Linked DNA regions of Homo sapiens: region 1 is linked to region 2. Evidence: fine-mapped expression QTL. Tissue or cell type: thyroid. Region 2 holds a variant in brackets; the other region holds the start of a gene. All regions are shown on one strand. Distances are from middle to middle.

Region 1 (5,164 bases), 47 kb after region 2:
AAACCTCTGGCCTTAGCTGGTATTTTCTCAGTGCAATACACTGGAAACACTGATTATCTCAGGAACAGTCATCCCTCATTAATAAAATGGGGAAATAGATCAGTGCTTAATAAACGTGGGGTATTTGGTAGACAAAACACAGAACTCAGGCAAGGACACTAATCCTGGAAGTCCTGGGGCTGAGTGGGGTGGAAGCCCCAGACCAAGGACTCTGGAGGATTCTGACTCAGAACTCAGTCTTGGAAGCTGAGGTGCCTGAACAGAGGTCCGCACCTTGCCGTCAGTCTGGAGACCACATGAGACACTCTTTGTTGTCTAAAACAAAGGCGACGCTGGGCCTGGGTGGCCTATGGGGAGCTCCCATGGAACCAGCTGCTGTCCTTGCCTTTTGCTGCTCTCCATTCCTGGAAGCCAAAGGCAGAGCCATGCACTCAGCCCGGTATGAAAATCAGGGAGAGAAATAGATAGCAGTGTCCTGATCCAGCCCCTCTCTCTGCCTCACGTCACCTGCGAGCAGGACCAATCGCCTGTCCCCTGGTCAGGGCCATGAGGGTACATCTGGAATTCCTATAGCATGAGTTCTAACCCAGAAAATTGACTGGAAGCCCCCACGCCCACCCCAGCATAGCCCTGGATCTTCTGAACGTTCTCTGAGAGCCAGCTGTCCCCCAGATATGCGTCTACCACGTGGAGGCTGGGAGGGTAGTCCAGTCACTACGGTTTGGAAGAAAAAGTCTAGAATCTTAGGCTTTAATCTGGACCTGGTCTCTAATAACCTGTGTTTCTGTTACGCTCTGCCTCAATTTCCCCATCTGTAAAATGAAAATGACAGACTGACTCCTGGGCTTCTTACCAGTCTCACTTGCTAACTGATCTTGGACAAGTTACTTGACCTCTTTGAAACTCAAGTTTCTTTGACTATAAAATGGGGATGTGAATCTATGCCCTGCCTTCCTCACTGGGCAGGGTGAGGAGCAAATGCTAGGGTGTCTGCTAAAGTGGTTTGAAATCAGCGGCTCCTCATGACTACAGGAGAGTATTATTATGATCAAGGACATCTGGTTCACCCCACCTGGGCCAGGCCCTGGGGCCAAAAGAGAAAACAAAGATGTGATCTTTCCCTTAGCCACCTTCTGGTCTGCTGGGGCCATGGAAATGACCAGCACCCCATTCCGACAAGGCGGGAGAGCTGAACCCATAGGAGCCGAAAAGATTCAGTAATGGGAGAGAAACCTGACTACTGTAGGAGGCTTCCTGGAGGGATGAATCAACACAGGGAAATGAGGCTTTTTTTCTTTTCTTCTTTTTTTTTTTTTTTTTGAGACAAGAGTTTCACAATTGTCACCCAGGCTGGAGTGCAATGGCACGATCTCGGCTTACTGCAACCTCCACCTCCCATGTTCAAGTGATTCTCCTGCCTCAGCCTCCCGAGTAGCTGGAATTACAGGCGCCTGCCACCACGCCCGGCTAATTTTTTTGTATTTTTAGTAGAGACAGGGTTTCACTATGTTGGCCAGGCTGGTCTCGAACTCCTGACCTCGTGGTCTGCCCGCCTCAGCCTCCCAGTGTTGGGATTACAGGCGTGAGCCACCGCGCCTAGCCCAGAAGGCTTTTTAAAGCAAGCCCCATGGGGTCACTTAGAGAGGGCACCAGCTGCTCCTGACCCACACCAAACCCCCTGTCTCTTTACAGGGCTTTTTCATTAGAACACGTCCTCTCATTTGATATTGAAGATAGCCCAGTTAGTCATTTAGTCGGCAGAGGAGTCCCCCAGCCAAGAAGGCGCAGCAGTGGGTTCCGGACAGGGGCTTTTCCCTGAAATGCAGGTTCAAGAGGCCAGGCGCGGCCCCTCTCAGCACCCCCTCCGCCATGCCTGCCACCCTCCCCTTTTCTCTCCTCGCCCCTCCCCTGCTCCTCTACCTGGAGGAAACACAAATGCAGATGGCTCTTTTGATGTCTCTGGGGATCAAAGGTTTGGCTTTGGAAGAAAGATGTGCTGCTTGAAAGCCACCCAGAGCCTGGTCTGCACAAAAGCCCTTTCCCGTGAGCCCCTCCCGCCCGGCCCTGGGCGCCCGCACCTGACTGGCCTCCTGCCGCCCCCCCCACCCCAGCCTCCCCCCACCATGCGCACACAGCACACAGCAGGGCCGGCGCTCACGCTCACCTGAAGCACGTTCCTCCTCTCTTTTGTTGGATGATTTGTCTGTGAAACATGTTGTCCCCGCTGGGCCAGGCACTGCTATGTCTCAGAACAATGAGAGAGAGAGAAAGACGAAGAAAGAGAGAAAATGACAGAGGCAGCGCGTGAGATGGAGAAACGCTGGAAGAAAGAGAAACAGGTGGACAGAGGGAGAGAGGATGAGCAGACAGGGGACACTCACAGGCGCACAGAGGAGACGCAGGAGGAAAACCCAGCCTTAAGAGGAGCAGAGAAGCAGAAAAGGGAACAGGCAAAGACAAGACGGTGAAGAGGAGATGGATGAGGCATCAAAGGGATGGAGATGTTAAAAGATAGGCCAGAAATGAAGAGGGAAGAATGAGATGGGAAAAGAGGGAAACAGCTGTAGAGACTAGAAAGGAAGGCTTCCTGAGCTAGGTGCACGCAGGGAAGCTGAGCCTCTAGTCGGGGGCGGGCAGGGGGTGGTTCCTGCCATGGCTCTGGGTACCCCTACCCTGCCACTGACAGAGTCCCGGGGGTGGGACCCAGACTCCCCACAGCCCACTCCCTCACTGCTAGCTCCCCCCACCACGAGGTTCTCTCCTCCCGCTCTGAGACCCCACGCCTCCCAACCCAGATGAGACTGCCAGGTGGCCTCCAGACAACGTGGCTGGACAGGGAGGGCCTGGAGTTAGCAGACCTGGAGGAGGGAAGGATCCATGGCAGCTTGGTCAGGAATCCCTGTGTCTCTCTCCACAGAGGAGTGAAGTCTGTGCCCTTCCCCTCCATTAGCCCTGAAAACCCTCCGGGCTGGAAACCAGGGGAATGGGGGCAGGGCAGGAAGGCCCGTTCCTTCCATGCAAGCTCTCTAAGGCACCTTCCTGCTACTGTGTCCTGAGACATCACAACCAATTTCTTCCACCGACCCCCACCTACCTCTTGCCTGGCCCTTCACTGTCTCTAGGGTGGAAAGACCTAGACTTCCTGAAGCCGGGGCCCCTGTGTCCTCTGTCTCCACCCTCTCACCGACTGGCTAGGTGGCCTTCAGCCCATCATTTCTTCCCTCTGAGCCTCGATTTCCTTATCTGTGAAATGGGAAATAAGCACAGTGCCTGCCCCAGAGGCTGGTGTGAGGGTTCAATAAGATTAAGGTGGCCATGTGCCTAACACAGCGCCTGATATGGGCAAAGGAGCAGCTGAGGAGGTCCCCGTCCCAGCCATGGCCATGGCCATATCCACAGCAGTGGTAGTGTCAATGGCTGGCGTGGGATGAGAATTCTGGCCTTGCCCAACTCACGGGGACAGTATGAGGCTTATAAAAGCTAAAGGATGGTAATCCCAGCACTTTGGGAGCCTGAGGCGGGTGGATCGCCTGAGGTCAGGAGTTCGAGACCAGCCTGGCCAACATGGTGAAAACCCGTCTCTACTAAAAATACAAAAAATTACCCGGGCATGGTGGTGCACGCCTGTAATCCTAGCTACTCAGGAGGCTGAGGCAGGAGAATCGCTTGAACCCAGGGGGCAGAGGTTGCAGCGAGCCTCCTGAGATCACTCCACTGCACTCCAGCCTGGACGACAGAGTGAGACTCTGTCTCAAAACAAAACAAAACAAAACAACAACAAAGCTAAAGGATGGGAAAGGCATCCCCGCCAGCAATGCTGAGGCTCAATGCGGACTCCTGCAGCCAGGCCCAGCTGGAGCCCTAGCCATCAGGGCGGCTTCTCCACCAGACACACCAGGCTCAGCCCCAGCCCATGGTACTCCTAGGAGCCCACAAAGTATTCTGAGTTGTTTTAAAATCAGAGGGAAGAAATGATCTTCTAAGTCAACAGAAATGTTTTCATATATAATGTGAATATATTTACCTTTATCCCAACACAACTGTAAAATGTAACTTTTTACTTTTTTAATGGAAAAAGGGGTCCATGACAACAAAAAATGCTTATGGCCCACCAAGTCCTAATGTGGTCCTGTCAGCCACTTCTGCTGGCCAGGGAGGAGCAGGACAAAATGCACTCTTGGTGGCTTTAATAGACACAGCCCTGACCAGAGGGGTGTAAAGCCATCCTGGGATGTGGGGCTGGGGGGTGGCAGGAAGGAGAGACATGGGTGATGGCAGCAGAGACACAACAAATAAGAGATTTTGAGGCCCTGCCCTTGGGTAGGCCTGAGGCCAAAGGGCACATAGTGCCATACCTTAGAGACCCCTAATTTGAGAGAGAAACATATTCTCTCCTTTGGGGAGCCCCTAATCTGAGGCGGGGGGTGCAGCCTGTCCTGAGGGAACCCCAGTCTGAGAGTGGAACACAGCCCTGCTTTCAGGGACTCCCAGTCTGAGAGAGAGAGACATAGCCCTGCTTCTGTGAGCCCACATCTCCAAGAAAAGACAAAATATAAAACTAAAACAAAGCAAGCTACTAGTGGTGGGAGGGTGGAAGACATCAACGCTGTAGTGTAAATAGCTGTATGTCCAACAGAGAAACCTAGAGAGAGTTCCTTCATCGCTGGCGGTGAGAGGGAGGCATCTCAGCAGAGATGGAGCCCCTGGCCATGGGCAGGAAGAGACGTGGGGACAAGCAGCAGGCAGGGACATGTGGCAGAAGGGGATCCTTGCTCTGCCATCAGGGCAAGGGTTTGAATGAAGAAGAGAGGATGGTGGATCTGGGCATGGTGGGGTCTTGATGCCCATTCCTGCCCCTGTATGCCATGCCCATACCTGTGAACTCCAAAGACCACCACTGTCCCTGCGGCTTCTCTGTCAGAGCCGCACAGGGACACAAGAGTCACTCCTGGTGCGGTCAGGTAACCGCACGCCTCAGGTGCCCCCCAGTCAGGCACCCTGCAGAATTAAATTACCGTATTGGAAATAGCAAAGTAAACACCAATAGGTAAAGTGCAAATTAAAGCCGTTCCTCCCAGATACCTTATTTTTAGACCTAAGCTCAGCAGCCGCGCCCTCCTGGGCAAGAGCCACAGGAGCAGAGCAGGGCACCTGCCCTGTGCCT
Region 2 (5,312 bases):
ATGCACAAACACACACACACACACACACACACACACACACACATACACACACACACGGAGGGGTGAATGGGCAGGCAGATGTTCATGCATATAAGCACCTACATCCACACACACTCCAGGGGCAGGGCTGCAGGCCTGAGAGGGAGCCCTGGGCTCAGGGGTGGCCTGTTAGATCTTGGCAACCAGAGAGACAGGATGATCTTGGTCTGAGAAGGTCTCACCCTAGCTGGTCCCACCTTTTCCCAGCTCTGTCTCTTCCTCTTCAGGCTGTTTGGCCCCGGGACAGGGGAGACCATCAGCTTTGGCATCGGCTCCGGAAGTTTCTCCCTTTCCTACCTGCCACAGAAGGGCTTTGAGGCCGATAGGGGAGGCTCATGAGGTGTGAGGAGCCTCCATGGTGAAGCTCCCTCCATCCCCTGTCCCCGTAAGACCCTGAATCGTGGTCCCAACACAATGAAGACCAGAACTGGTGCCCGAGGAGCACTCATCTCACCAATGCTTGCTCTTGCTGAGTAGAGTCAGAAAGGCACAGGTCAGACCTGTCAGCCTCAGACATAAACGTCAGACCTGAACTGTCTCCCGAGAGGTGCCTCCCTCCCTGGTTAACTTCAGGGCTGGCTCTCACATCTGTGGTTATTATTCAGACTTGGATAGGGACTAGATGCTGTGGTCCTGGTGCTCTGGGCCAGGAGATGAGGGCATCAGGGGCCTAAGGCCTGGGACACAGGCCTCGTCATCTGGCCCTGCCTCTGCTGTGACCTGAGCTGACCTGGGAACATGTCATTCCACCCCAGCTTCCCCTTCCCCACTTGGATTTTGGGACATATGGGCTACAACCAGCTTTGGGAGCTCTTGGAAGGCTGGGGCCGTGCTATGCCTGACATTGTACACCCAGGGCCAGCACAGTGCCAGGCACACCATAGGTGCTCAACATACACTGAGTGTGCAAATGCACCATATTTGTCCCTAATTACTTTCTTTCTATATATTCAGCTTCTTCCTGCCTTCCTATGTCTCAGATCTTAGACATCTCCCATCACTTCTGAGCCGTGCTTAGGACCCCTAGGGAGGGGCATAACTTGAGCTTCCAAGGCCCATCAGGGTCAAATCCCCAAACAATCCCTGAGATGAGGGCTGTTTCTTACTAGCCTCTCTGGGCCTTGAGGAAACTGAGGCTTGAGACTGACCAGCAGGATATTTGCTTGACTGAAGAAAAATTTCCTCAGAGGGGGCAGGGGAGGCCTTGGGGGTTGGCAGCTCCCTCCTGGTTCATGGTTATTACAGGCATAACCCTGCTCAGGCCTCCCCTAGCGTTGGCCGCCTGCCAACCCCCAGCGCCCACTTCCCCTCCTGGTCTGGGAGCTGCCAGCTCCAGGAGTCGGGTGCTGGACCCATTCAGTGCCCAATGCTGAGGAGGTTTCGGGCCCTGCCTGCCAGAGGCTGCCAGTCTGGCCTGGGAGATGCCCAGTCTCCATAGAGAGAGGGGCCACAGGCATCAGGCCACGCTCAAGAGCGCTGGGATAGGCAGGGCGGGAATCCAAGTCACTTCTCTCCAAGATGGCCAGCTCCGCCCGGGCAGGGAGCTGGTGTGCAGCAAGACTGTCCGGGGCCCTCTGGTGGGGCAAGGGGCAGGGGGTGGGCCTGAGGGGGCGTAGAGAAACACCCCAGTCGCTAGGCTATGAGGTGAGCAGCACTGGGTTTAAGAGTTCAGCCCCTGGCCCAGACCATCTGGGTTTGTATTCAGGTCTGACCCTCAGAAGTTATGAACGGCTCCATGCCCAGGTGCCACCCTCTGCGAGGCGGGAGGGTAACAGCCCTACCTGCTAGAGCTGTTTGGAGAATGAAATAAGTTACTCCACGTGAAACACTTAGAATGGTGCCTGGTACATCATAACCCCTGCAGTCAGTGTTAGATATTATTGTTAGACCAGGGTAAGTTGAAACTCGCCTGAAAGGGGCTTAATTGACTGTCGACATCTGGTTTCCTCCACTGGACACTGAGGTCCCTAGGCCCTTTATGTCTTAGGCCTGGCACGTCTCAGGGACACGAAAATATGTGTTGAAAGGATGGACGCATGAACAAGGGAGTCGGGGGAGCAGGGCATCAAGAGAAGCTCTGGGAAGAGGTGGCCCCAGGGGAGGCCCCCACACAGGAGGGGAAGTGGCGGGAGCTGAGGTGAAGGCAGGGAGGCCTCTGGCTGGGCCCACGTCCACCAGGGCTTCGGGCAGGCTCTTGAGGAGAGGGGTCTTGGGGAGAGGAAGGCTGGAAGGAGACCGAGCTGGCCAGAGCCTACCACACAAGCTGGACAGCCATGTCCCCTGTTCTGGGTCATGAGGGTCTAGGGCCAGGTGAGAGCTGCCACTGAGGAGAGGATGGATGGGAAAGGGCCTGGAGAGGCCCCCGGGGCCGTCAGTGTGAACCCTTCCTCCTCCTGCGCCCAGGCCGGCTATGGAGCCTGGCATTCTGTTGTCGCTGAGAGAAAAACCAGCCTCGCTCCACAGACACGGCAACCAGTGGAGAAACAAGTGTTGGAGATAAGAGGATTTAAAACAA[G/A]TAAACTCCCCTGCAGGAGATGTAAAAGAAAAACAGATTGTGAGCTTTCTCTCTCACCGTTCTTTCTGTGTCTTTCCCTTTCTCTTCTTTCTTTTGCTTCTTCCAACCCTCACTCACTCTCTTCCTTCCTTCCATCCTTCTTTATCTCCCTTCCTCCTTTTTTCCTTTCTTTTTCATCCTATCTTCATGAACAACCAAACCTCCAGATTTTAAAAAACCTACAGCAGCAAAACAAAACACGACAAAACAACAACAAAACAAAACCACACACACACAAGCAAACAAAAAAACCACCTATCATCAAGGTATCATCCTAGTCTGACCACTGAGGGTCTATAGAATGTTTTATTGACCCAAAGATCCCCCAGGGTCAACCTGTCAATTTCTCTTCTTTAAAGTGTCCCATCCTCAAGGAGCCCCAGCCTGAGGGGAGACACAGCCCTGTCCTCAGGGAGCCCCAGTCTTCAGGGAGACACAGCCCCATCCTCAGGGAGCCCCAATCTGCAGGGAGACACAGCCCCACCCTCAGGGACCCCAGCCTAAGGAGAGACACAGCCCTGTCCTTGGGGAACCCCAGTCTGAGGGGAGACACAGCCCCATCCTCAGGGAGCCCCAGCCTGAGTGGAGGACACAACACTGACTAAGGGAGCTGCAGTCTCAGGGAGTAGGTAAATAAATGTACCACAGATATTAGCCTACTTCTTCACTTTGAGAGCAGAGGTGTAGGAGTGTGTGTGTGGGGGGCAGGGCTGCAGAATCTGTATTACAGAGGGGTGAGTGAGAACATGTGGGAAAAGCTGGCATCCCAGAGCTTTCCGAGTTCCCAGGAGCATTCTACCCCTTCTCTGTGCTCAGCCCAACTCTGACCAATAGGAGGGTCACTGGAATCCAGTGTCCCCTTAAGGCAAGGGAGAGTCAGAGCTGAGAAGCAGGCGGCTGGGAGAGGCCCGCTGAGTGGCTCTCTGGAGTCTGTCAGGTGAGTGACCACAGGAGATAAGCTGTCTATGATAAGGGGCATTCAGGCCACCTCATTTTAGCTTGTCCGTGACAAGCTGAGCCTCGCACGGCCCAGAGCATGTGTGTGGTGAGGAGGTGGGGGAGTGGGCACAATTCAGGAGCCGTCTCCAGAGGTCAGCACTAATGGGACAAGAAGTCTTAAGATGCAGCCCCCAGCTCCTGTTTGTCCCTATCCAGGTGGAGACATTTCCATTCCCAGACATAGGAGCTTCTCCCAGGGAACCTCATGAAGACAGAGATGGTGGGGACTGAATGGGGGGGTGTCTCGATTCCCAGCAGCTTCTTGGCTCCTCTGCTGTCACATAATCAGTGAGTGATGACTGGCAGCAGGCACTTCCCTGGGTGCTCTTGACATTCCCGTGACCTACAGGCAAGGGAGAGGGTTCCAGAGAAGGAGGAGTGGGAGCCTCAGGGTGGCAGAGTGGCTGTGGCCTTTCCACAAAAGGAGGATCTCTTCCGGGAACCAGATGATGAGCTTAGCTTGTCTGCAGGCATTAAAACACCAACACTGGGAACATCCTCATGGTATGTAAAGGGAAACTGAGGCACAAGGCAGGGAAGGGACTTGCCTAGGGTCACACAACATTGAGAGTTCCCAATTCTCTTCTCTACTCCAGGCTGTACGAGATCTGCAAAAGTCAAACTTCCACTCTGCCTCCATACTTGTATGTGTGCGTGGGTGCTTGTGGGGCATGCTCGGCAGGCCCAGCAGCTGAGGCCAGGCCCTGGAAGGAGTCCCAAGCTCAGCCCTGTCCAGGCACCCAACCCTCTGGTCAGGCGATGTGACCCACATGGAATGGCCCCCAGACTTCCAGGCGACACTCACTCATCACCTCGTTAGCTGCTTTCCTACTGAGAGTCCACAGGCAGTTCTCCTTCTGGCCTGGCACTCCCCTAGGCCCCGCAAGAGCATCCAAGACATGGCTCAGTTTTCTCCAGTCTTCAGGCACTGTCGAGCTCACAGCAATTTTAGCCACAGCACAATCTGGTTGGGCAGGCAGATTAGCTCTCACGAAAGCCACGTTCAGCCTTTACCAGGCAATGCCACAGAAAAACACTGGGATTTTCTGCAGCTGGACATGGTCCCTGCCCTGTCTTCCCTTCCAGAAGCGGGAGCAGAAGGCATGGGGACAGCCAGCTGTGAGGAGAGAAAGCAAAGATATAAGTCACAATGCCTGAGATGAATTTGGGTAGGAACATGCTTTATGCAAATAGGCACACACATCTACCCCAGGGTGGGGAGGACATGTGCAAATCAAGGCTCCAGAAAGTCCTGACAATGAGGCTCCCTGTTCTAATGAGTGGGACACTAGGATCCCTCAAGTTTGTCTGTGGACTGAACTTGGGTCTTCCTACTATATCTGAGACACAGCCCTCCCATTCTGGCGCCTCCCTTGCCCTTGTGGACCTCCTTCTGCCTGCCTCGTGTGGTCTGGCCCTGGGAAGCCTCCCAAAGGGTCTGGCTTTCCTCTACTTGCCCCAGGCTGCACCTCAAATGCCCTCCAGCTGCTAACCACTGCCCCGTTCAAATGGGAAGGATCTGTGGCTGCCTGTCCCCCACAACTGCAGTCTCTACCTCAAGCTTGGCCTGTCTCCACAAAAGGGGCCAAAAGAGTGGTCTGCCCATCAGAAACACTGCCTCCCCCATGGGCCCTCATGCTGTTCCCAGCAATGCCCAGCATACAGAAGATGCTCAGTAGCAGATGAATGGTGGAATCAACGAATGAATAAATGAAAATTC

The links. PIP is the estimated chance that this variant, and not a neighbour inherited with it, causes the effect.
Region 1: it holds the start of LINC01512, and the variant in region 2 is fine-mapped to the expression of LINC01512 in thyroid (GTEx, PIP above 0.99).

The regions. Positions count from the first base shown.
Region 1 is chr6:43,888,466-43,893,629 of GRCh38, reverse strand. It overlaps LINC01512 (long intergenic non-protein coding RNA 1512), which reads right to left and starts at 2,602. Exons shown (of 2, transcript NR_024478.1): 1 at 2,165-2,602. All of the region lies in intron 2 of LOC105375070 (a long non-coding RNA gene), which reads right to left. RefSeq lists an enhancer at 3,182-4,143.
Region 2 is chr6:43,935,761-43,941,072 of GRCh38, reverse strand. LINC01512 (long intergenic non-protein coding RNA 1512) reads right to left here. Exons shown (of 2, transcript NR_024478.1): 2 at 2,866-4,709. Among named protein-coding and RNA genes, the nearest start is that of LINC01512, 47 kb to the right of the region's middle. The variant G/A (reference allele first, on the strand shown) is at 2,555.